Homo sapiens: one gene and its partners. The protein of the gene in region 6 purifies or fractionates together with the protein of the main gene of each other region. This does not show direct contact. Each region holds a gene or a part of one and is shown on either strand. Other genes may lie near its edges.

Region 1 (3,500 bases), on a different chromosome or scaffold from region 6:
ATTCTGGGCTAATGGATCCTCAGCACATACACAGTGGATAAGCAAGAAGGTTCAAGAGGGCCTTGCAGAATGTAAAAGCCAGTGAAGACATACAACAGCTGGACTTTGAACGCACTCCCCTGTACACACAGTGTTCCATCAGTAGAGAGAGAAAGTCTTACTGCCTCAAGGTGTTTGAGCCAAATGTTTAATTAATGTTTGGCTGAACACTAAGCTATATACACACCAAGGAGAATCTTGGGAAACTGGGTTTAAGAATAAAATCAAGGAAAAAACTCTAACAGAACAGAGACTAAAGTAGACACATATTGCATGGGAGAATTCATAGATTTAGTTTAGTGCTATGGTTTGAATGTCTGCACCCTTCCAAACTCATGTTTAAATTTAACTGCCATTATAACAACATTAAGAGGTGGGACCTTTAAGAGCTGATTAGGCCATGAGGGTTCCACCCTCATGAATAGATTATGCTGTTATTGCAGGAGTAGTAGGTTCATTATAAAAGGACAAGTATGGCCCTCTCTTGGTGCTTCCACCATGTGATGACTTCCACTATAGGATGATGCAGCAAGAAGGCTCTCACCAGATGCGAGCCAACTGGTCTTGGACTTCCCAGCCTCCAGAACTGTGAGAAAAAAAATTATTTTCATTATAAATTTTAAATTACCCAGTTTCAGGTATTCAGTTATAGGAGCACAACATGGATTAAGCACAAAATGGATTAAGACATTTAGTATAGGCAAATGGCTAAACCCCCACACACAAATAAACAGAAGAACAACTTTCAGGGGGAAAAGTTGTTTCGCCAGGCTGGATGCCATCCACACTGTCCTACAATATGTTATCTAAAATGTCACTCTTCAACAAAAAATTACAAGGCATGCAAATAAACAAAAACTATGACCCACACTCAGTAAACTGAAACTGTTACCTGGGGCTGAGTGTGGTGGCTCATGCCTGTAATCCCAGCACATTGGGAGGCCAAGGTGGGAATTTCACTTGAGGCCAGAATTTCAAGACCAGCCTGGGTAACATAGGGATACCCAGTTTCTTTTATGTTTTTATTAGAATTTTATTTTTCTAATAGAAATACATTAAACACTTTTTTTTCTTTTGAGATGGAGTCTGGCTCTGTTGCCCAGGCTGGAGTGCAGTGGTGCGATCTTGGCTCACTGCAACCTCCACCTCCGGGGTTCAAGTGATTATCCTGCCTCAGCCTCCCAAGTAGCTGGGATTACAGGCATGTGCTACCATGCCCGGCTAATTTTTGTATTTTTGGTGGAGACAGGGTTTCACTATGTTGGCCAGGCTGGTCTTGGTCTCCTGACCTCAGGTGATCCACCTGCCTTGGCCTCCCAAAGTGCTGGGATTACAGGCGTGAGCCACTTAAAGATACTTTTAATTCAAAAGGTACTAAACAGTAGAAAGTGAAAGTTTCCTTGCTCCCATGAACCCCAGATACCTAGTTTTCATGTTTCTTTTCAAGGGTATATTGTGCATTAATCATTCAAATCCCTGGGTGTTGTGTGTGTGTGTGTGTGTGTGTTTACTGTCCCCCTCTCCATACTCTAATATTACAGAAATGATAACATGCTATCAACCCTGGTCTTTATTTTGCTTTTTTGCTTTCCAATATCTTGGAAATTGTTATATGCATGTAACATCTTTTTTACGTTCCAGGATACATGTGTAAGACATGCACGTTCATTACATAGGTACACATGTGCCATGGTGGTTTGCTGCACCTATCAACCCATCACCTAGGTATTAAGCCCCACATGGATTAGCTATTTATCCTGATGCTCTCCCTCCCCCTGACCCCCACCAGCAAGCCCCAGTGTGTGTTGTTCCCCTCCCTGTGTCCATGTGTTCTCATTGTTCAGCACCCACTTATAAGTGAGAACATGTGCTGTTCAGTTTTCTGTTCCTGTGTTAGTCTGCTGAGGATAATGGCTTCCAGCTCCATCTGTGTCCCTGCAAAGGACATGATCTTGTTCCCCTTTATGGTTGCATAGTATACCATGGTGTAGAGGTACCATATTTTCTTTATCCAGTCTATCACTGATGGGCATATGGGTTGATTCCATGTCTTCGCTATTGTAAACAGTGCTGCAATGAATATATGTGTGCATTTCTCTTTATAACAGAATGATTTATATTCCTCTGGGTATATACCCAGTAATGGGATTGGTGGGTCAAATGGCATTTCTAGTTCTAGGTCTTTGAGGAATTGCCCCACTGTCTTCCACAAAGGTTGAACTAATTTACATTTCCACCAATAGTGTAAAAGCATTCCTATTGGGAGACCTGGTTTCTACAAAAACAAACAAACAAAAAAAAGCCAAGTGTGTTGGCTTTGCACCTATAGTGCTAGCTACTCAGGAGGCTGAGGCAGGAGGATCACTTGAGCCCATGAGTTTGAGGCTGCAGTGAGCAATGATCTTGCCACTATACTCCAGCCTGGGTGACTGAGCAAGACTCTGTCTCCAAAAATTAATTAATTAATTAAAAAAGAAACTGTATCTGAGTAATTGAGTATTCTCAGAAGTCTGACATTTAGCAAAGACTTCAAAGAAAGTAGTATAAGGGAAATAAAGCACAAAGAAATAAACAAAAATATGGTAACAATGACTCAGCAAATACAGAATCTCAATAAGGAAACACTTCAAAAAGGAATAAAATGGAAATTCTAGCACTGGTAAGCACAGTAAGTAAAAGGTACTTGTATTGCTGGGCGCGGTGGCTCACGCCTGTAATCCCAGCACTTTGGGAGGCCCAGGTGGGCGGATCACGAGGTCAGGAGATTGAGACCATCCTGGCTAACACGGTGAAACTCCGTCTCTACTAAAAATACAAAAAAATAGCTGGGCGCAGTGGTGGGCGCCTGTAGTCTCAGCTACTCGAGAGGCTGAGGCAGGAGAATGGCGTGAACCCGGGAGGCGGAGCTTACAGTGAGCCCAGATAATGCCACTGCAGTCTGGCCTGGGCAAAAGAGCGAGACTCTGTCTCAAAAAAAAAAAAAAAAAAAGGTACTTGTATCAGTCAGGGTTATCCAGAGAAACAGAAGCAGATGACTATAAATATTGACAGACTTGTTTCAAAAAAGTGGCTCACAAAATTTTGGAGGCTGGCAAGTCCAAAATGTATAGATAATACTGGTAAGCTGCTCACCCTTGGGCAAGAGTTGTTATGGTACTGAGGCAGTATTTCTTCTTCAAGGAAACATCAGTTTTGCTTGGACTTTAAACTGATTGGAAGAGGCCAACTCAGTGTATCAAGGATATAATCTCATATATACACTAGTCTACTGACTGTAGATGTTAACCATATCTACAAGGTATGTTCACAGCAACACTTAGATTAGTATTTGATTAAATAACCGTACTATAACCTTACCACGTTGACACATAAAACTAACAGTCACAGTCTACATCTTGTCAATTTGGCACCTATATGTGTCTCCTTAACCATATTTAATCTCCAACTAAAGACGATTAGAA
Region 2 (3,500 bases), on a different chromosome or scaffold from region 6:
TATAAATGACCAGTGATGAAACACGATTTTTGGCAAGAAAAGGGGAAATGGGTAGAAGATCAGAAAAGAAAACTCAAACACCAGTTTTTTGACCATGACTTCCAAAATCATGAGGACATCCTTTGGGTGACAAAGGAAACTAGAGGAATATTAGAGCAGTGTCCAGAAAGTTTTGATAAAGGAAACACAGTAAAGAGACTGCATTTGACATTCTGAAGGGAATGTTGGGTCCTGAAGCATGAAGCATGCCAGCCTAACAATATTGGCAAGAAGTTTCACTTTCTCACACTAAAAAAGAAAAAAAGACTGGACAGGAAAAACAAGAACTTCTAAATCTGCTTAGTAGAGTGGAATATTAGAAAGAGGCAAAATTCAGGTTGAGAAAGATTTGTCTCACTGTTTGTTCCAGAGGTTGTTTTCATGTTAAGACTGTATGTGGATTTAAAGTGGGGAATGGAAGCAGAGATTCTGGAATGGTCAGTTAGACTTCCTGATCTGCGCAATGGCCTTTGTCCAAGAGTTTAGTCTGGTTTGCTTTGAAAGCACCTAGAGCTGGGCGATTGTATGCATTGATCTTGTATAATCTGGATTAGAGTTTTATATACAAAGCTTGACCCAGAAAAAGCATTCCTGGGACAATTAGGGACTACAGTGGAAACTTCCCTACTGTACTTGATGTGGCTAAAATCTCTAGCCTAATTTTAAAACTATTCCAATTTCCAGTAAGGGAGGAGTAACTCCTAACAAAACAGCTCCTCTGCAAATCACAACTATAAATTCTAGGAAGAATTAAAAAAAATACATGAAACAATCACCTGAAGGCACTAGAAAGGTGGCAGAAAATGGAGGGGAATCCATACTTGGAAGAAGATACTGGCACTAAATGAGTTTTGTGCTTTTGTGTTTTGTTTTGTTTTTGTCCCCCACCCCTAACCCACCCCCAACCTAGGGAAGGCCCTGGTCAGTGGCTAAAACTCAAATAGAACTCCTAGTCTTACTGTACTGAATAAAAAGAGAACAGAGATTGAGGGCAATGACAGCAGCTGCAAAATGAGGAGGAGAGTAGTATATCTTAGAAAAAGAGCCACAAAACAACAGTTCTATAATATGCATATATATTTTATCCAAATAACTAGATGACTTGAATAGTAAATGCGCAGAGTATATTTCAAATAGCCCAGCTGAAATAAAACCTGAATAGAGATTTTAACTACTTGTCATTGCAAGAAAGTCAATGCTTGGAAATTGAGTTGAGCCAAGTAAATTTCCTGCTAATAAAAAAAGTTAAGACTATTCACAGGCATATAACAGAATCTAGAATCTCCACACCTGTAATTCAAAAATATAATCCAGGTTATGATCCAAAATTACAAGACAAGACAGGAAAATGTGATGCAACCTCAAGGAAAGGTAATAAATGGAAAGTGATGTTGAGATATTCCAGATGTTGGAATTATCAGGCAAGGATATTAAAGCAGCTATTATAAGTATGCTTATGCATGTAAAGAAAAAAAGTTCATAAAAACAAACAAATAGAAAATTCAAAAAAAGGAGAACTGAAAAATACAATATGTGAAATAAACTTGTGGGGCTATAAATAATTTCCATAGTATGTAATATTGTATAGAACATTGACAGGGTTCTAATTTCTAGATAATTTTAGTAGGAATTTTCCGGTCACATTCCTACTATTTATGTCAAATACATCTATTTCAATATAAATTTATCTTGTGTGATTCTATTTTTAAAATTAAATTTATCTATTACAATTCCTCTGATTCTATTTCCTCTTGAAAACCAGGCACTAAGTTAAATTTTGTGGAGGGAATGTGGTGGGCAGGTTTATTTGGAGAAGTTCTTTCACATTACCACTGAATTAGAAAGAATTCTGAAAAATGCAGAGAGTTAAAAGTTATAAAATTAGTACGGTATTCTAATTTATGTATGCTCCTTGATGACTTTCTAAAGCAAATTAAGGACAGAGGGAATCAAAATGGCATTCTATGTCAATCTGGAAGATAAATGATTATAGAAAAATGATTATAGATTATAAATGATTATATGAAAAATGATTATAGATTACTTCTTGAACTCAGCGCCTTAGACCGCTCGACCATTCTGACACACAGATTACTTCTAATATTTTCTTGAGTTGATTAAAATCTGTTTTTTTTCTTTTCTTTTTTTTTTTTTTTTTGAGATGGAGTTTTGCTCTTGTTCCTCAGGCTGGAGTGCAATGGCGTGATGTTGCCTTAACACAACCTCTGCCTCCCAGGTTCAAGCAGGTCTCCTGCCTCAGCCTCCTAAGTAGCTGGGATTACAGGCATGTACCACTATGCCCAGCTTAATTTTGTATTTTTAGTAGAGGCAGGGTTTCTCCATGTTGGTCAGGCTGGTCTCGAACTCCCGACCTCAGGTGATCCGCCTGCCTCGGCCTCCCAAAGTGCTGGGATTACAGGTGTGAGACACTGCGCCCAGCCCAAAATCTGTTTTCAGTGAGAATACTGGGCATAATTTAAGACCTGATTTTTTTTTTTTTTTTTTTTGAGACAGGGTCTCACTCTGTCACCCAGGCTGGAGTGCAGTGGCGCAATTACCATTCACTGCAGTCTCAAACTCCTGAGCTCAAGCGATCCTCACACTTCATCCTCTTGAGTAGCTGGGACTACAGTAGTGCACCACCCCATCCAGCTATTTTTGTATATTTTGTAGAGATGAGGTTTCGTCAGGTTGCCCAGGCTGGTCTCAAACTCCTGGGCTCAAACGATATGCCTGTCTTGACCTCTTAAAGTGTGGGGATTACAGGCGTGACTCACCGCACCTGGCCTAAAACCAGATTTTTTTAATTTTACATACCTGGTAGATCCAACTTTACACAAGGTAATGATTCACCTCTCCCAACTGGACACTTATAGACATCTCCAGTTCTGTTTTTGGGTTGGCCAACTAACGGAGAACCAATAAGCACCCTGGAAGTTAAATAAATCAGTAAACATTTTTGAACATTGAGAAACAGTTTATATGAGTTGTTTTATGACTGATTTTAAGATAATTGACAATAACACTCATAATCAGATAATAATCATGCTATTAGTAATTTAATGTTATGTAAACTAAGCAGAGAGCCTACCTCTTGCATATTGATGTGGATTAAAAAGTATATATACACACACACACATACATATACAATATACATATATAGCATATACATGTGTGTATATACATATATATGTGTGTATATACATGTATATGTGTGTGTATATGTAGGATAGATATTTCAGAGATTTTGCTTTATTATTTTGTTTATATTACTTTATCATATTTTTTATTGGGGTACTGAAATAATCAATAATTATTGGCTAAGTCTGCTACTGTATTAACTTATAAAACACATGTGGAAGTATAAGTGACTTTTTCCTATGATGAACTGCTAATTTTATAGAGAAGTCAGGAAATATAAACATTGGAACATCATAAGATTTAATATTAGCATGTGCTAG
Region 3 (3,500 bases), on a different chromosome or scaffold from region 6:
ACTGGCGTTTTTGGATTAATAAAAAATTCCATGAGGGATAAAATAGGCCACCTTTTTTTTCTCGTAAGCAAAGAACACTAGCTTCATGTGCTGGTGAAATGGTCACCGCTCTACACCACCCACGCCCAGCTCTCCCACACATCCCCTCCAGGGAGCAACGGGAAGGAGAGGCCACATCTTCCCAAGAAAAACAAGCTAAAGCTTCTCAAACTCAGCTGGGCATCACAATGACCTGCAGGAAGTTTTGATTTTTTTCTTAACAGAAATTCCAGGACCCCATCCTGGATGGACCTACTGAACCAGATCTCCCAGTGGGAAGACTGAAATTTCCTTACTAATCAGGCTGCCACACTACATGCATAAAGGGGTGAAATATCAACTAATCCTACAGAAGTGACCCCTAGTTAGTGAGAGGGACTTCCCATGCATGGAGAGATTCCAAGAGATAAAAACCCACACGAGGAGTAATTTTTTTAAAAATGTACTTTGGCCATCAAGATTCAAAGACATCTAAAGGCTAGAATACTGGTTCTTTTCTTTCTTAAGTGGTGGGACCCCTTTTTTCAAGCAAAATCTTTCTTAGTATCCCAAAATATCAAACTAATAACCAAGCTTTTCTGGAGGAAAGAGAGGTACTGCTCAGTCCACACCCCACCAGCACAGACCCACCCACCCACATACGCCTCAAGGAGGCCTAGGATTGCTGGTAGCAGGTTTGAAATCCAATGGGCCAGAATAAGACATTTAAATGGGAGAAATAAACAGAACTAAATCTAAATTCAAATAATTAACTGGAGGGTTAGGGCTTCTGATTAGCATATAGCTTAGGGGGATGGTTTAATAGAGTTCACTTGAAAAAGTGAAGGTTTTATTTCACTAAAAAGTCAATCCAAGCCAAAGTGTTCGTTGGCTGCCAGGGAAAGCAAGTGCAGTTTAGCCTGGGTTAATAACTAGTATTTGTATTTAGAGATTTACCATTTATGAAGCACGTTGATATGCATGATCTCACATAATACTGGATAACAACTTTGCAGAAAATTATTTTCCTGGTTTTTTTAGATGAGCAACTGAGGAACTAATCTGTGAAAGTAACTTACTCAAAGTCAATTCCAGACAGTAGCAGAGGCTTCTGCCACCAGGCACAGCACAGCCTAGGGACTGAAGGGAGAGTTCAAGAGCCTGCTGCTCTTCGGATGGTTAGAAAAGCCTGTGAACAACGTGTTTCATTCTGGTTGCTGCATTAATAGAGGTGTGTCCAAATGGGACCCTAGGCAGAGCACCGTGACCAGGGCAAAGAACAATCTGGAAACAGTATATGTAGACCTAACACTCTAAAACCGAACCCTGACATGCTCTTCAACATCTCAAAAGTTACTCCACATCTCTGTACTCCAATTTCTTCATCTGTCACAAAGATATAATATGTTTGGAAGACTCTTTGAGATGCTTACAAGAAAAACATCATTAGTGTAAACACATGGAGGAACTAGGAGCTTTTAAAGGTGGAAAACAGAATGTTTAGGAATGACATAATGGCTATTTTTAAATAATGAAGGACCATGGGGAAGGAAGATAAGTCTTATTTTACATCATTCAAGAGTAGCCGAGGCTCTTCGCCTTCTCCTTCCTGAAAATTCAAAGCCATTAGGTAGGTCCAATCTGGTAGGCTTCCTACGTTTACAAAAACGTAGGAAGAGGGATGCTGTGGAAGCCCAGAGCAGGGTATCTCAGGGAGAAAGGTATCCATATGGGGATGGGGGTGGTGGCACAGGATGCTAGAGCACTAACAGCTGAGGAGGGCAGCCCCAGGAGGAAAGGTGGTGGCAGCTGCAGAAGATTGGTTACATATGGGGAGATTTACCAAATAAGTAAACTGTTAAGAATAATGCGAACCAAGAATCTCACTGTCAAATAAAGCAGTTATAAAATATGGAGAGGAAAAACTAAACCCTGTGGTATCAGACAGGAATTTAAGGTATGACTGTAAACTCATGGTTTTAAAAGTACATAGATACAGAATTACAGATGTACATGTGTGTCTGTATATACACAGAGTAGCAACACCCTAATAGCAATGAGCACACCAAGCAACCAGATCTTGGCTTCTAAATTCCATTCTCCATTCAATAGCTCCTTGGAGAAATGTCTGATACAAAAGATGACACAGGTAAATCACAAAATGAGTTTGGAACATCTTATTCTGCCAGAGAGCAAGATGGTGCTCAAAGACTGATGGGAGTTAAAAGAGCACAGGAGCCAATGTGAAAAGACTGCACTGGCCAAACCTAGGGCCATTTTAAATAAAGTAATGACAGTAACATTAAACCACACTGAAAAAAGGAAGACACTAAGTTCTTACTGATATAAATAAATAACAGATTGAAAATTTGATGAGGAATAGGCTATTTACATGGTTTCAATGTAATTTGCCATAAAACATTTATAAATTACAAATGAGAAAAGAGTAACTATATGGTAGAGAAGCCTGGCAGACAACACCTTGATCAAGTGACCATCATCAGTAATGGGACAAACAGAAATCAATGCCACCCTGATAGGGTACAATGAGAACGCAGCACCATTTCTGTACTATTCCTACCAAAGATGCACAGCCTGAATCTAAGCTTGTGAAAATGGCACAAACACAAACTGAGGGACATTCTGCAAAATAACTGGCTTATAATTGTCAAAAGTATCAAGAGCATGATAGTGAAGGACTGAAAGAGACTAAAAACATGTAACTAAATACAAAGTGTGGTTCTGACCTGAATTCTTTTGCTTTAAAACATTATGGGAGCAACTGGGAAACTTGGATGAAATCTAAGGATTAAATGGTGTTAATGTATCATTGGTAATTTCCTGGCTTTCATGGTTGTACTGTGGTGATCTAGGAGAATAGTCCAGTTTACAGAAAATACATACTCAACTGTTTGTGTGATAGCCAACATGCTGGCAACTTTGTCTCAAACAGGATAAAAACAGGTTCTCTATACTACTTGCAATTTTCCTATTGGTTTAATGTTTCCAAATAAAAATTTTAAATGAACAGTAAATTAGGAGGATGGAAATGATGGGGAGACAGATAACATCTAGTTTGAACAGATGAAACTCTACAATTAAAGTGGTCCAAAAACAGATCCATGCTTAGAAAGGTAGGCACGATACAATGGAGAATGCTTCACTGACTAGGAAGTTAGAGGAGATGATTCCTACGTACTTTCTGATGATTTTGTAATTCTTTCCTTCAACATACTTTTTTTTTTTTTTTTTTTTTTTTTTGAGACAGGGTCTTGTTCTGTCACCCTGGAGTGCAGTTGCAGCCTCAACCTCCCAGGCTCAAGTGATCCTCCCACCTCAGCCTCCCAAGTGGCTGGGACTACAGGCACGCATCACCACACCCAGCTAATTTTTAATTTTTAATTTTTTTTTGTAGAGATAGGGTCTCACTATGTTACCCAGGCTGGTCTCAAACTCTTGGGCACAAGCCATCCTCCAGCCTC
Region 4 (2,464 bases), on a different chromosome or scaffold from region 6:
AAAAGACAATGTGGCCAGGCACGGTGGCTCACACCTGTAATCCCAACACTTTGGGAGGCTGAGGCCGGTGGATCACGAGGTCAGGAGTTTGAGACTAGCCTGGCCAACATGGTGAAACCCCATCTCTAATAATATAAAAATTAGCTGGGCGTAGTAGCAGGTGCCTGTAATCCCAGTTACTCGGGAAGCTGAGGCAGGAGAATCACTTGAACCCGGGAGGCAGAGGTTTCAGTGAGCCGAGATCGCGCCACTGCACTCCAGCCTGGGTGACAGGGCAAGACTCTGTCTCAAACAAACAAACAAAAAAAAAGTTAGTACTGTATATGTAAATACTAGCTTTTCAATGTGCTATACAAACAATTATAGCACATCCTTCCTTTTACTCTGTCTCACCTCCTTTAGGTGAGTACTTCCTTAAATAAGTGCTAAACATACATATACGGAACTTGAAAGCTTTGGTTAGCCTTGCCTTAGGTAATCAGCCTAGTTTACACTGTTTCCAGGGAGTAGTTGAATTACTATAAACCATTAGCCACTTGTCTCTGCACCATTTATCACACCAGGACAGGGTCTCTCAACCTGGGCGCTACTGTCATTTGGGGCCAGGTGATTCTTCCTTGCAGGGGCTGTCCTGTACCTTGTAGGACAGCAGCCCTGTCCTAGAAGGTATGTTTAGCAGCATTCCTGGCCTCTAGCTACCCGATGCCAGAGCATGCTCCCCCCGCAGTCATGACAATCAAAAAATGTCTCCAGACATTGTCAAATGCCTCCTGGGGGGCAGTATTTCTCAAGCACTTTTAAGCAAAGGTAAGTATTCATACAAGAAATTTAGGGGGAAAAAACATTGTTTAAATAAAAGCTATGTGTTCCTATTCAACAATATTTTTGCTTTAAAAGTAAGTAGAGGGCATAAAAGATGTCATATTCAAATTTCCATTTCATAAATGGTGTACAGACAAGGTCTATAGAATGTGGTAAAAACTTGACTGCAACACAAGGCTTATAAAATAGTAAGATAGTAAAATAGCTTATGAAGAAACTACAGAGATTTAAAATTGTGCATGACTCATTTCAGCAGCAAAATAAGAACTCCTAACTGAACAGAAATTTTTCTACCTAGCAATGTTATTCTTGTAAAATAGTTACCTATTAAAACTGTGAAGAGTAAAACTAAAGCCAATTTATTATAGTCACACAAGTGATTATACTAAAAATTATTATAAAGGTTATAATTTTATAATGTATTTACCTGTCCTGATATATAGCTATAACCCAATATATGAAAATCTCAAAAATTAAGACATCATCATACAGAAGGCAGGATTCCTTAAACTGAGATCCCTGATCCATCTTTAATATTTCAATTTGCACACATAAAACAATGCCCTTTTGTGTACATTCAGGCATACCCATTTTAATCAATTTGAAAGGTTAATTTAAACCTCTAGAGGTGAATGAGAAACATGGGGGAAAAGTATGAAATAGGTGAAAATCTTAACTATTTCTTTGAACTCTAAAGACTGAAACTGTAGCCATTATGTAAATAAAGTTTCATATGTACCTGTTTATTTTGGCAGATTAAGTCAAAATATGAATGTATATATTGCATAACTATGTTAGAATTGTATATATTTTAAAGAAATTGTCTTGGATATTTTCCTTTATACATAATAGATAAGTCTTTTTTCAAATGTGGTGTTTGATGTTTTTGATTAAATGTGTTTTGCCTCTTTCCACAAAAACTGTAAAAATAAATGCATGTTTGTACAAAAAGTTGCAGAATTCATTTGATTTATGAGAAACAAAAATTAAATTGTAGTCAACAGTTAGTAGTTTTTCTCATATCCAAGTATAACAAACAGAAAAGTTTCATTATTGTAACCCACTTTTTTCATACCACATTATTGAATATTGTTACAATTGTTTTGAAAATAAAGCCATTTTCTTTGGGCTTTTATAAGTTATATATTTTACTATTTTTATCTTATACATTCACTTTGCTCACATCCAAGACTCAATTTAAGAAGACTGAGGCTATAATTAATTTGCCATAAGTGTCCAGTCTATGTTTCTAGCAGTGACCACAAGGATCTTCTTTTGTAAGACTCTTAAACTGCCTTCGAAGTTTTGAGACAGTGTAAAGCATTGCTCCTCAAAGTGTGGCCCAGGGACAGATGGTGCTGCATCACCTGGAGCCTGTTAAAAAACACAGATCTCAGGGGCCACTCAAAACTATTCAAGTCAAATTGTAAGTTCTACAGCATCCCCAGGTGATTCATATTGCATTGAAGTTGAGAAGCACTGCTCTAAAGCTTACCTTTTGAAATAAAATGTGTGCTTGGAATAGAGAGGGAAAAAAAATCAGCCAAACTGCTGCAACATGCAAAAGCAGAGTCATCTGCACAGTTTAAAAAAAATCATAATAAGCAGGAAGGTTTAAATATTTTTAAAGAGTAAATATGCT
Region 5 (3,500 bases), on a different chromosome or scaffold from region 6:
TTCCCAAGCCCAGACTCTTCATTTCAAAGTGTTAAAATATACTATTTTACCCTTTAAAATAGAAACAGAAATCATGTTTTCTGTCATTTTGTTTTTTTGAGATGGGGTCTTACTCTGCCATCCAGGCTGGAGTGTGGATGACATGATCACAGCTCACTGCCGCCTCAACCTTCCAAGTTCCAGTGATCCTCCTGCCTCAGCCTGAGTAGCTGCGACTACAGGCCCATGCCACCACACCTGGCAAATTTTTGGTTTTTTGTTTTGTTTTTAGAGACAGGGTCTCCCTAGAGTGCCCAGGCTGGTCTCGAACTGCTGGGCTCAAGTGACCCGCCTGCCTTGGCCACCCAAAGTGCTGAGATTACAGGTGTCAACCAATGTGCCTGGTCATCTTATTTGTTTAAAGCTAGGTTTAGTATGGTATCATGTACCATCAGAACTATTTTATTTTACTTTTTATTTTATTCTTCTCTTCTCTTCTATTATTTCTTCAGATAGAGTTTCGCTCTCGTTGCCCAGGCTGGAGTGCAATGGTGCGGTCTTGGCTCACTGCAACCTCTGCCTCTTGGGTTCAAGTGATTCTCCTGCCTCAGCCTCCCAAGTACAGGCACCCACCATCATGCCCGGCTAATTTTTTTGTATTTTTAATATAGATGGGATTTTGCCATGTTGACCAGGCTGGTCTTGAACTCCTGACCTCAGGTGATCCACCCACTTTGGCATCCCAAAGTGCTGGGATTACAGATGTGAGCCACCGCGCCTGGCCATCTTATTTGTTTAAAGCTAGGCTTCGTATGATATCATATAGCACTAGAACTATTATTTTAATGTTCTAAAATATAAAGCATTCTAGGAAGATGGGGTGTTGATCTTTTCTCCATTGCAGCCCTTATGAACCAAGTGACTGATCCTCACTACTCCGACAGACACAGCCAGATTGTGACAAACTCCCTAAAAATTCTGAAGGGAAGTCAAGGTCTGTAATCATTCAGGGTTAGCCCACCCAGACTTACGCTATGGGATTAGAGTGTGTAAGACGGGCTAATGGTTATGGGACACCTCTGGGGTGCTGTCACTTTTTCAGAAAAGTCTATAAGGATGCAAATGGGTGAGAGGGACACTTCTCTAAATTCAGCAAATAATTAGCAAACTTCTGCCTCTTTTGGATTGATGCTATTATCTGTGATCCACAAGATGTCAATCTCCCACCCCCATCTCCTTTTTTTGTTTTTCCAGAGACAGGGTCTCACTCTGTCACCCAGGCTGGAGTGCAGTGGTGTAATCATAGCTCAATGCAACTTTGAACTCCTGGGCTGAAACGATCCTCCAGCCTCAGCCTCTCGAGAAGCTAGGACTACAGGCACACACCACCATGATGGGCTACTTTTTTTTTTTTTTTTTTTTTTTAAGAGAGATGGGGGTCTTGCTATGTTGCCCAGGCTGGCCTGGAATCTAATGGATCCTCCTGCCTCAGCCTCCCAAAGTACTGGGATTACAGGCGTGAGCCATGACATCTGGCCCACAAGATGACAATCTCATATGGTTTAGCTTAGTATTAGTAAATTGCTTCTGACACACATCACCCAGGGGTGCATGATCACCCCCAGACGGGAACAGCGGTATGAAGATACTCAATAGCAGAGTCGGTCGCTGGCAGTCTTGCATCACTAGGATGACAGTTAACGGGAAGCACTTGCAGGGCTTTCTGACTCCAGAAGAGCTGTGTCCCTGCACTTAAATGCCGCGGGCACTGCATGTCTACAGTGCCGCTGTCTGCTCTTAATGATTCATCTGTCCTCCGCGCTCATCAAGCCTCTCCATCCTTTCTGCAAGGCCGGGGTTTGGCTTTATACCCAGCTCAAGGTGCGAGGAAAAGATCGAGGCAAAGAGACAAGGTGCTAAGGCGGCCTCCTCCACCCGCTCCTGCAGGCCCACCATGCCCACCTGTTGGCCACGATGCTGGGGTAATAGGCCTTCTGGTTCTCGTCCACCTTCAGGTCACTCTGGTGGATGAAGCGCTCCTGCTCCTCGAAGGCTCGAATGACGCTGACCCCCAGCAAGGTCTCGTTGAAATGGGAATAGACCGGGGAGCGGCTGACCGACTCGAGGCGCTTCAGCTGCCGGGAGGAAGCCACGTAGAACCTCTGGGGTAGAGAACAGACGCGGGGAGTTGATGAAGGTTCCCTCCTGCCATCCTCCCAGGGCAGGGCTGTGCTGGAGAACATCTAGACGTAACCGATACCTCCAGGAGGCAAAATGTTAGAGCCGGGCTGCCCTCACAGGGGTGCCCACTCACCTGGTGAACCACAGGAATAGCACCACCAATGACAAGGACAGTGACAATAATAGCTCACGCTTATACAAAGCCCACAGCCCCAGGCATCGTTCTAAGCAGTTTTACAAACATCAGTTCATTCAATCCTCACAAAAAACCTGAGGTGCTCATTCCTATATGTGATGGGTAGACTAAGGCACAAAGAAGCTAGTTAATCTCCTCCCCAAGGTCACATGGCTAGCAAGGGGCAGAACTGGGATTCAAACCCAGGCCATCTGGGCTGCAAAGTGCTAACCTCTACCCTGTACTGCCTCTCTGAAGCCTTTCACCTCTAGGGTTTTCTGGAACCAGCAGTGTGGTTTTCAGCATAGGCTTTGAGGTCAACGAGACCTCAGTTCAAATCCTGACTCAACTACTGACTGGCAATATAAACACGACTAACACTTTACTTCTCTAAGCCTCAGTTTCCTTATCTGTAAAATGGGAACAACAAGGCTTGCTCGGCCAGGTGGGGTGGCTCATGCTTGTAATACCCGCACTTCAGGAGGCAGAGGCGGGAGATCACTTGAGGCCAGGAGTCTGAGACCAGCCCAGGCACATGGCAAAATGCCATCTCTACAAAAATAAAATATTATTAAGAAAACAAACGAAACAAAACAAAGCTTGCTTCACGGGGTCATTGTGAGGGTGACATGTAAGAGTTACAGTCTTACATGTGATGTGTATTTGCGTGGACACATTATTTCATAAATCATATAGATATGCATGATGTCACTAAGCACAGTGCCTGGTAATACTAGGTTGAACCACAGGAAATAGCTGTTTCTGTAGATAAGAAATAAGTATTAGCAGTTTCATATAGTTTGACCTAACAGTAAGCATTCAGTTAGCTGGTGACTATTGTTATCATTAAGTGACAGAATTCCGCCTGTTGATCACATCCCCTCAGGAGTGACTGTGTCCATGCAATGGCCGGTTCCAGCACACTCAGCCCAGCTGAGATGCCCATGAGGATAGGGTCAATCTCGTCACCCCCCTCCGATGGCCTCCCAGCGCTGTTAGAGTTGCCAACCATGCTTCTTCCCTCAACTCATCTCATCCTGTAACTCTCCCCTTCCTTCCCTGCACACAGGCCGCCTGCCTCCACCCACCATGCCCATCCCGTCCAGGCCATTCCTCATCACCCAGCAGATGGGAGCACAGATGTCACTTCCTCGGGAAGCCCTTC
Region 6 (3,500 bases):
CTGCTCTTGATTCTTCTGTACAAGGGCTGAAAATGATGTTTAAAAAATCATGTATTAATTTAGTACATACTTAAAGTAACAGAGCATAAGAGTCATAGCTCAAAAGAGGGCAACATATTTAGATCCTGAATAGTTTAAAGCGGGGGTCTCCAACCTCCAGGACTGGTATGGGTGCAAACAGCAGGAGGTGAGCGGTGGGCAACCACAAGAAGCTTCTTTTGTATTTACAGCCACTCCCCATGGCTCACATTACTGACTGAGCTCCTTCTCCTGTCAGATCAGTTGTGGAATTACGTTCTTACAGGAATGCAAATCCTGCTGTGAACTGCACATATGAGGGATCTAGGTTGCATACTTGTTATGAGAATCTGATGCCTGATGATCTGTCACTGTGTCCCATCACCCCTAGATGGGACTGTCTAGTTCCAGAAAAACAAGCTCTGGGCTCTCACTGATTCTACATTATGGTGAGTTGCATAATTATTTTGTTATATATCACTATGTAATAATAATAGAAATAAAGTACACAATAAACCTAATGCCTGTGAATCACCCTGAAACCATCCCCCCACCCTGATCCAAAGAAAAATTGTCTTCCATGAAACCAGTTCCTGGTGCCAAAAAGGTTGGAGACCACTGGTTTAAAGAATACCTAGAACAAAGAAAGTCAGAACAGGTCCTCTGAATGTACTCCCTGTCCTCCTGCCCTCACACCCACCTCCTTCAAGGGGATGTAGCACTTTTCCATTCCTGTACCATGTGATATTGCCATCTGGATAACTGTCTTCTGAAATGCAGTCACCCAACTGCAAAATAAAAAGGCAATGTTATTACCTTGGTTCAATCAGGGGCTGTCAATTTGGAAACTCCAGAAACTCAGGCAATGCAGAGTTATTCCAAGGGTTTCTTGACCCGTTTATTTTCCAACACTGACCAAAGACTGAATACATGCTCTCTGGTATAAAAACAATGTCTTTTTAAGACCTTTTTAACAATTTATTTGAAAATATACTTTTGACGATTTTTAAATGTGCAATAGATGGTGTCACTATTATAAAATCACATTCATTTGAAAGCATTGCCAAATTCATTTTGACACTATTCATTTTTAACATTAACCAAATAACATTACTCTATTAACACTGACTATTACCATGAATCATAGATCTTCATACGGAAGAATAATTTGGTGTTAAAATGGGGCTGTGTCTCCAGTTTCATACTACATATATTTCAAGAGGATATACATTATCATGCTCTATAATTCCCCTCACTTTCTTTAAATGTATTTTAACTTTAATATTTGGTATTCATCAAATAATTTTATGCAGTAAAATTTAATATGACACAAAGAATGTAGGACTTGGGTTTCCATCTCCCAACAAAGGAAAACTTTGGTATTTTAGTTACATTATTATTCAATATGGAACTCCAACTTTGTCCCCCACTTTAATACAGCTTCCCTTCACATATCTGCTAATGTGTTGTTCGAATCTGATCTCACCTCTTTACTTCAATCTTTCAGTAGCATAATTTGCCAACAGAATAAAGTCCAAACTCCCTATTTAGTATGTAAGATTTGTCATGATCCAACTTTTCTTTGCCTCTCCAGATTCATCTCTTTCTATCCTTTCTTGTTTTCTGTCTTGGCACCCAGTTTCATCAATGCCAAAATTTGCTGTTTCCCAAACACACCGTTCTCTTTCACATCCTATTATTTCATATTGTTGGAAAGCCATTTCTACCTTTGGCTTGGTGAAAATCTATTCATCTTTCATCATTCTCTCTATATATTTTTTCTACACAGGGTCTGGCTCTGTCGTCCACAATGGAATGCAATGGTGCAAACATGGCTCACTGCAGCTTTGACCTCCTAGGCTCAAGCAGTCCTCCTTACCAAGCATCAGCCTACCAAGCAGCTGGGACCACAGGCATGTACCGCTATGCCCAGCTAACTTTTAAATATTTTTTATAAACAAGGTCTTGCCATGCTGTACATTCCTGGGCTCAAGTGATCCTCCCACCTTAACCTCCCAAACTGTTGGGCTTACAGGCATGAATCATGCTAACTGGCTTCATCCTTCTATTAAACAATCCATTAATTCAAATGAGAAAGACTCCTCTTTTCAGAAATGACCCCACCTTCCTTGATGTCCTCATGGTTACCTGAGACTGTGAGCATGTTGTACCCTCTGTGCCTTGTAGATAATTTCTGATTGGTAGCTGCAACACTGTCATCTCCACAAGAGCAAAGCCTTTCTTACTTGTCTTGGAATGTAAGGTCAGAAGAAGGCACTTACAACACTGGCTAAATAAAGGTATTAATCAAAAACAATTCTTACCTTTTTTAGCTGCTCTGTTTCGAGAAACAGTGCTTTGCTTACAATTTCAGGTTTAGATGGTTGCTCTAAAGTTAAGCAGAGAAAGATTTTAAGTACATATGTAAGAAAAACGGGACTTCTGTGATTTGATTCACAGCAAAAACAATTCATTTACTCAATACAGAAGAATAAGCAACAGAATAAAAATAGATTTCGTTATACAATCTGGATTTGGGGAATCTATAGGTCTACCCCTTCAAATATTTATTATCTTAAATATTATTTTCAGTGCTTGTAATTCCTTTGAATAAAATATAAATAATGCTTTCTGAATGCTTTATAAATAGTGAATATGGATTTGATAGTGAAACAGGGGCTAATGTCCTATATAGGATATATTGTCTCTAATTGATTACCATGAGCACTTCTTACTTATCAGTAACTTCCAGCTCATTAACTGAAGACATTAATTTACATGAACCAGAATCACAAAGATACTTGTTTAAAATTCAGATTTCTGAGCCCTATTTGGCCTACTGAATCAGAATTCCTGAAAAAAAAAAATCCCATAACTCTACATTTTAAACAAGTTTCTAGGGGATTCTCAGTCACCATAAAGTTTGAGAAACACTGTTCTAAAATCATGGGAAATAGAAAGCAAGTTAAGGAATTTATAAACCCAAATTTCTGAAATATCTCTAACTTTACCTCTTAAGCCAAGTCACAATATGAAAGTGTAAATGTGAGAAAATCTTTCAAATGTGGAACCTGAGATGATGGACAAAAACATTTTAAATATAGGTAGTTCTAAGAAACATAAATTTTAATAAAGACTTCAGGAGCAATTGATTAAAAGTTGCAGCAACAATTTATTATTTAAACTGATTTTAAGTTATTTTATTCTTAGCTGCTATTTTCTATCAATGATGGATTTTGCGCTTTTTAAATAGCTCCAACAATTAGTTTACACAAAAAGTATATTGCCTCATTGTCACTGATGTTTGTGAGTCTCATGGACCAAAATTATTCTATTTTCTTATAAGCAAATGTATTTAAACAATCAGCTACTTTTTCTTTTATAGTCTTATTGTTTACCACCTAATACTTTTAATTTTGATTACCAAACTAAACTAAATTGGCTTTTGTATAATTATTACTCAATTTGGAATTCAGTTATTA
Region 7 (2,216 bases), on a different chromosome or scaffold from region 6:
CACCATGACATCCATGAGGCCTTACTCCATGTAACTCCCCCTTCTCTGAAGGCTGACATTTCCAAGTGCATGCCACTAAAGGTAACAATGTCACAGCGACTAAAGGGAACAATCGGGATCAGTGGTTTGATATGTATTTTATGTGTGTTCACTTAAAACCCTTATTAGGAATCTTAAAACTCATATTCATCAAAAAACTAATAGAGATGTTAATATTCTGAAAGAGGAAAATAAAAAAAAATACACTTGAAATCCCTAAAGCTCAGATTCAACAAATCTGAACTACCTTTCTTCATAATGTTTCATTTCAGAAACTCTGCCGAGACCCGATGTTAACACGAAGACTAGATTTGTTCTGTATTAAATATGAACTATAAATAAATATTTGAGGTATGTTATGACAAATAACTTTAATATAACACTTAGCTAAATAAATGTAAATTTACCTTGAAAATCTAGTTAAACATTAAATCTTGATATTTCCTACAGATGTTTCCTACAGTTTTTTTTATTTACACAAAAAAACCTCTCTACTCTTCATAAACGGTAATATATCAAAAAATTGAAATGCTTTAATCTCACGATTTTATAGTCACCTTGCCTTTGTTAACCAAAAGCTATTGTATACATTGCGTAGTGTAAAAAATGAATAATGGAGTGAGAGAAATCTATGTCTGAATCCTGACTTTACCATTCTGTATGATCCTAAATGAGTTATTTTACTTCTCTGAGTCTTGGTTTCATATGTTTTTTAAAAAAATAATAAAATCAGCCGGGCATGGTGGCTCATGCCTGTAATCCCAGCACTTTGAGAGGCCAAGGCAGGTGGATCACTTGAGGTCAGGAGTTCAAGACCAGCCTGGCCAACATGGTGAAACCCTCTCTCTACTAAAAATAGAAAAAAAATAGCTGGGTGTGGTGGCACACACCTTAATCCCAGTTCCTCAGGAGACTGAAACAGGAGAATCACTTGAACCCAGGAAGCGGAGGTTGCAGTGAGCTGAGATTAAGCCACTGCACTCCAGCCTGGGTGACAGAGCAAGACTCTGTCTCAAAAAAAAAAAAAGAATCAAATCTTTGCAAGGTAATTAAGAGGATCAAAATGAATGATGATGTATATTAAGTGCTTGTCAAAATGCTCTACAAATCGTCAACACTCAACAAATGCTAATTTTTTTCCTCTCTGTTCCTCCTTTCTCTCCATCCCCAACACCTTGACTCTGAATTACTTTTGAATATTTTCAAGAATTAAATCCACCTATAAAGAATAAGGACTTAATGCTAATGAAAATAACCAAAGAATGCGCTCCAACCACCCATCTTACCTCCTGGGAGTTTCTAAATTAATAGGATGAACTCAAGGATATTGTATTTGCATATTAAAGCTAAATAATATATGAATTTACAGTTTATAAAGGACAAGATGACCTTTTCCAAAACAAGTAATTTGAAGCCTAAGCTCATGGAGAGTCTTCATTAAAACTTCTAATAGGAGCTGTGACTATAAAGTAATGGGATCAATTTATTAAGAAACATATAAGACCCTATATATACAATTAAATGGTATCATCTACAAAACAGTCACTTCAGTTGGCTATGTAATATTCCAGTGATGCTACCATAGCCCCAAGTATTTTGTGAACCACTCTTAATTGGTACATATTCCAAAGCTTTATTTTCTCATGATTTTTACTACTTAGTCTACATTCACCAACAACACATTAATGAAATACCTGCTATTTATAAGGAGCAGATACTTGAGGAAGTACAATATTAACACTGTGGTGCACATTTCAGGCCCATTTCTTTGAGTTCTGGCCCAATCATCCCAAAGGATTTTATGGAGTGGCAGATGGTAATCAGGTAATATGACACCTGAAGATACCTGGCACCTGATCAGTGATCGCCAAACTGGATGACTGTTCATGGCAGCAAAGGGAGTAAGGGGGCTCTCTAACTACTCCGTGCTGAGTCCAGCAATCTTAGCTACCAGAAAAAGTGCCAATCCCACCAAAATTCTCTCAATGCAGTATCTTAATGATCAGAAGAAAATTAAGAAAACACCACACCTCTCCAATCTACATATCTTTAACTCCCACACCAAAGGAAAATTTCTCCTTTAAAGGATCAGAGCTCTCCCATAGAGGGTAAAGGGGAACCCTGAGGCCCCAAAGGAGACACTAGTTCAATCAGCAAGGTTTTCTTAATCAGCAAGA

What was found.
Region 1: the proteins of ALCAM (region 6) and AAMDC purify together in Homo sapiens (co-immunoprecipitation; one large-scale study listed by IntAct). This does not show direct contact.
Region 2: the proteins of ALCAM (region 6) and ITGA1 purify together in Homo sapiens (affinity purification with western blotting, with the first as the bait; one study listed by BioGRID). This does not show direct contact.
Region 3: the proteins of ALCAM (region 6) and TSPAN5 purify together in Homo sapiens (co-immunoprecipitation; one large-scale study listed by IntAct). This does not show direct contact.
Region 4: the proteins of ALCAM (region 6) and ITGA2 purify together in Homo sapiens (affinity purification with western blotting, with the first as the bait; one study listed by BioGRID). This does not show direct contact.
Region 5: the proteins of ALCAM (region 6) and ABCC1 purify together in Homo sapiens (affinity purification with mass spectrometry; one large-scale study listed by BioGRID and IntAct). This does not show direct contact.
Region 7: the proteins of ALCAM (region 6) and SLCO5A1 fractionate together in Homo sapiens (co-fractionation; one large-scale study listed by BioGRID). This does not show direct contact.

What each region holds. Positions count from the first base shown.
Region 1 is NC_000011.10:77,838,144-77,841,643, reverse strand, and holds part of AAMDC (mth938 domain-containing protein), read right to left. Parts: intron 626-3,500; exon of another isoform or gene 459-625; coding exon of another isoform or gene 420-458; intron 1-419. UniProt on the Homo sapiens protein: May play a role in preadipocyte differentiation and adipogenesis.
Region 2 is NC_000005.10:52,860,916-52,864,415, reverse strand, and holds part of ITGA1 (integrin alpha-1 precursor), read right to left. Parts: intron 2,970-3,500; coding exon 2,857-2,969; intron 1-2,856. UniProt on the Homo sapiens protein: Integrin alpha-1/beta-1 is a receptor for laminin and collagen. It recognizes the proline-hydroxylated sequence G-F-P-G-E-R in collagen. Involved in anchorage-dependent, negative regulation of EGF-stimulated cell growth.
Region 3 is NC_000004.12:98,648,612-98,652,111, forward strand, and holds part of TSPAN5 (tetraspanin-5), read right to left. Parts: intron 1-3,500. UniProt on the Homo sapiens protein: Part of TspanC8 subgroup, composed of 6 members that interact with the transmembrane metalloprotease ADAM10.
Region 4 is NC_000005.10:53,092,816-53,095,279, forward strand, and holds the end of ITGA2 (integrin alpha-2 precursor), read left to right. Parts: 3' UTR 1-1,964; downstream 1,965-2,464. UniProt on the Homo sapiens protein: Integrin alpha-2/beta-1 is a receptor for laminin, collagen, collagen C-propeptides, fibronectin and E-cadherin. It recognizes the proline-hydroxylated sequence G-F-P-G-E-R in collagen.
Region 5 is NC_000016.10:16,120,616-16,124,115, reverse strand, and holds part of ABCC1 (multidrug resistance-associated protein 1), read right to left. Parts: intron 2,142-3,500; coding exon 1,942-2,141; intron 1-1,941.
Region 6 is NC_000003.12:105,530,909-105,534,408, reverse strand, and holds part of ALCAM (CD166 antigen isoform 1 precursor), read right to left. Parts: intron 2,408-3,500; coding exon 2,343-2,407; intron 807-2,342; coding exon 719-806; intron 1-718. UniProt on the Homo sapiens protein: Cell adhesion molecule that mediates both heterotypic cell-cell contacts via its interaction with CD6, as well as homotypic cell-cell contacts. Promotes T-cell activation and proliferation via its interactions with CD6.
Region 7 is NC_000008.11:69,668,763-69,670,978, forward strand, and holds part of SLCO5A1 (solute carrier organic anion transporter family member 5A1), read right to left. Parts: 3' UTR 1-2,216.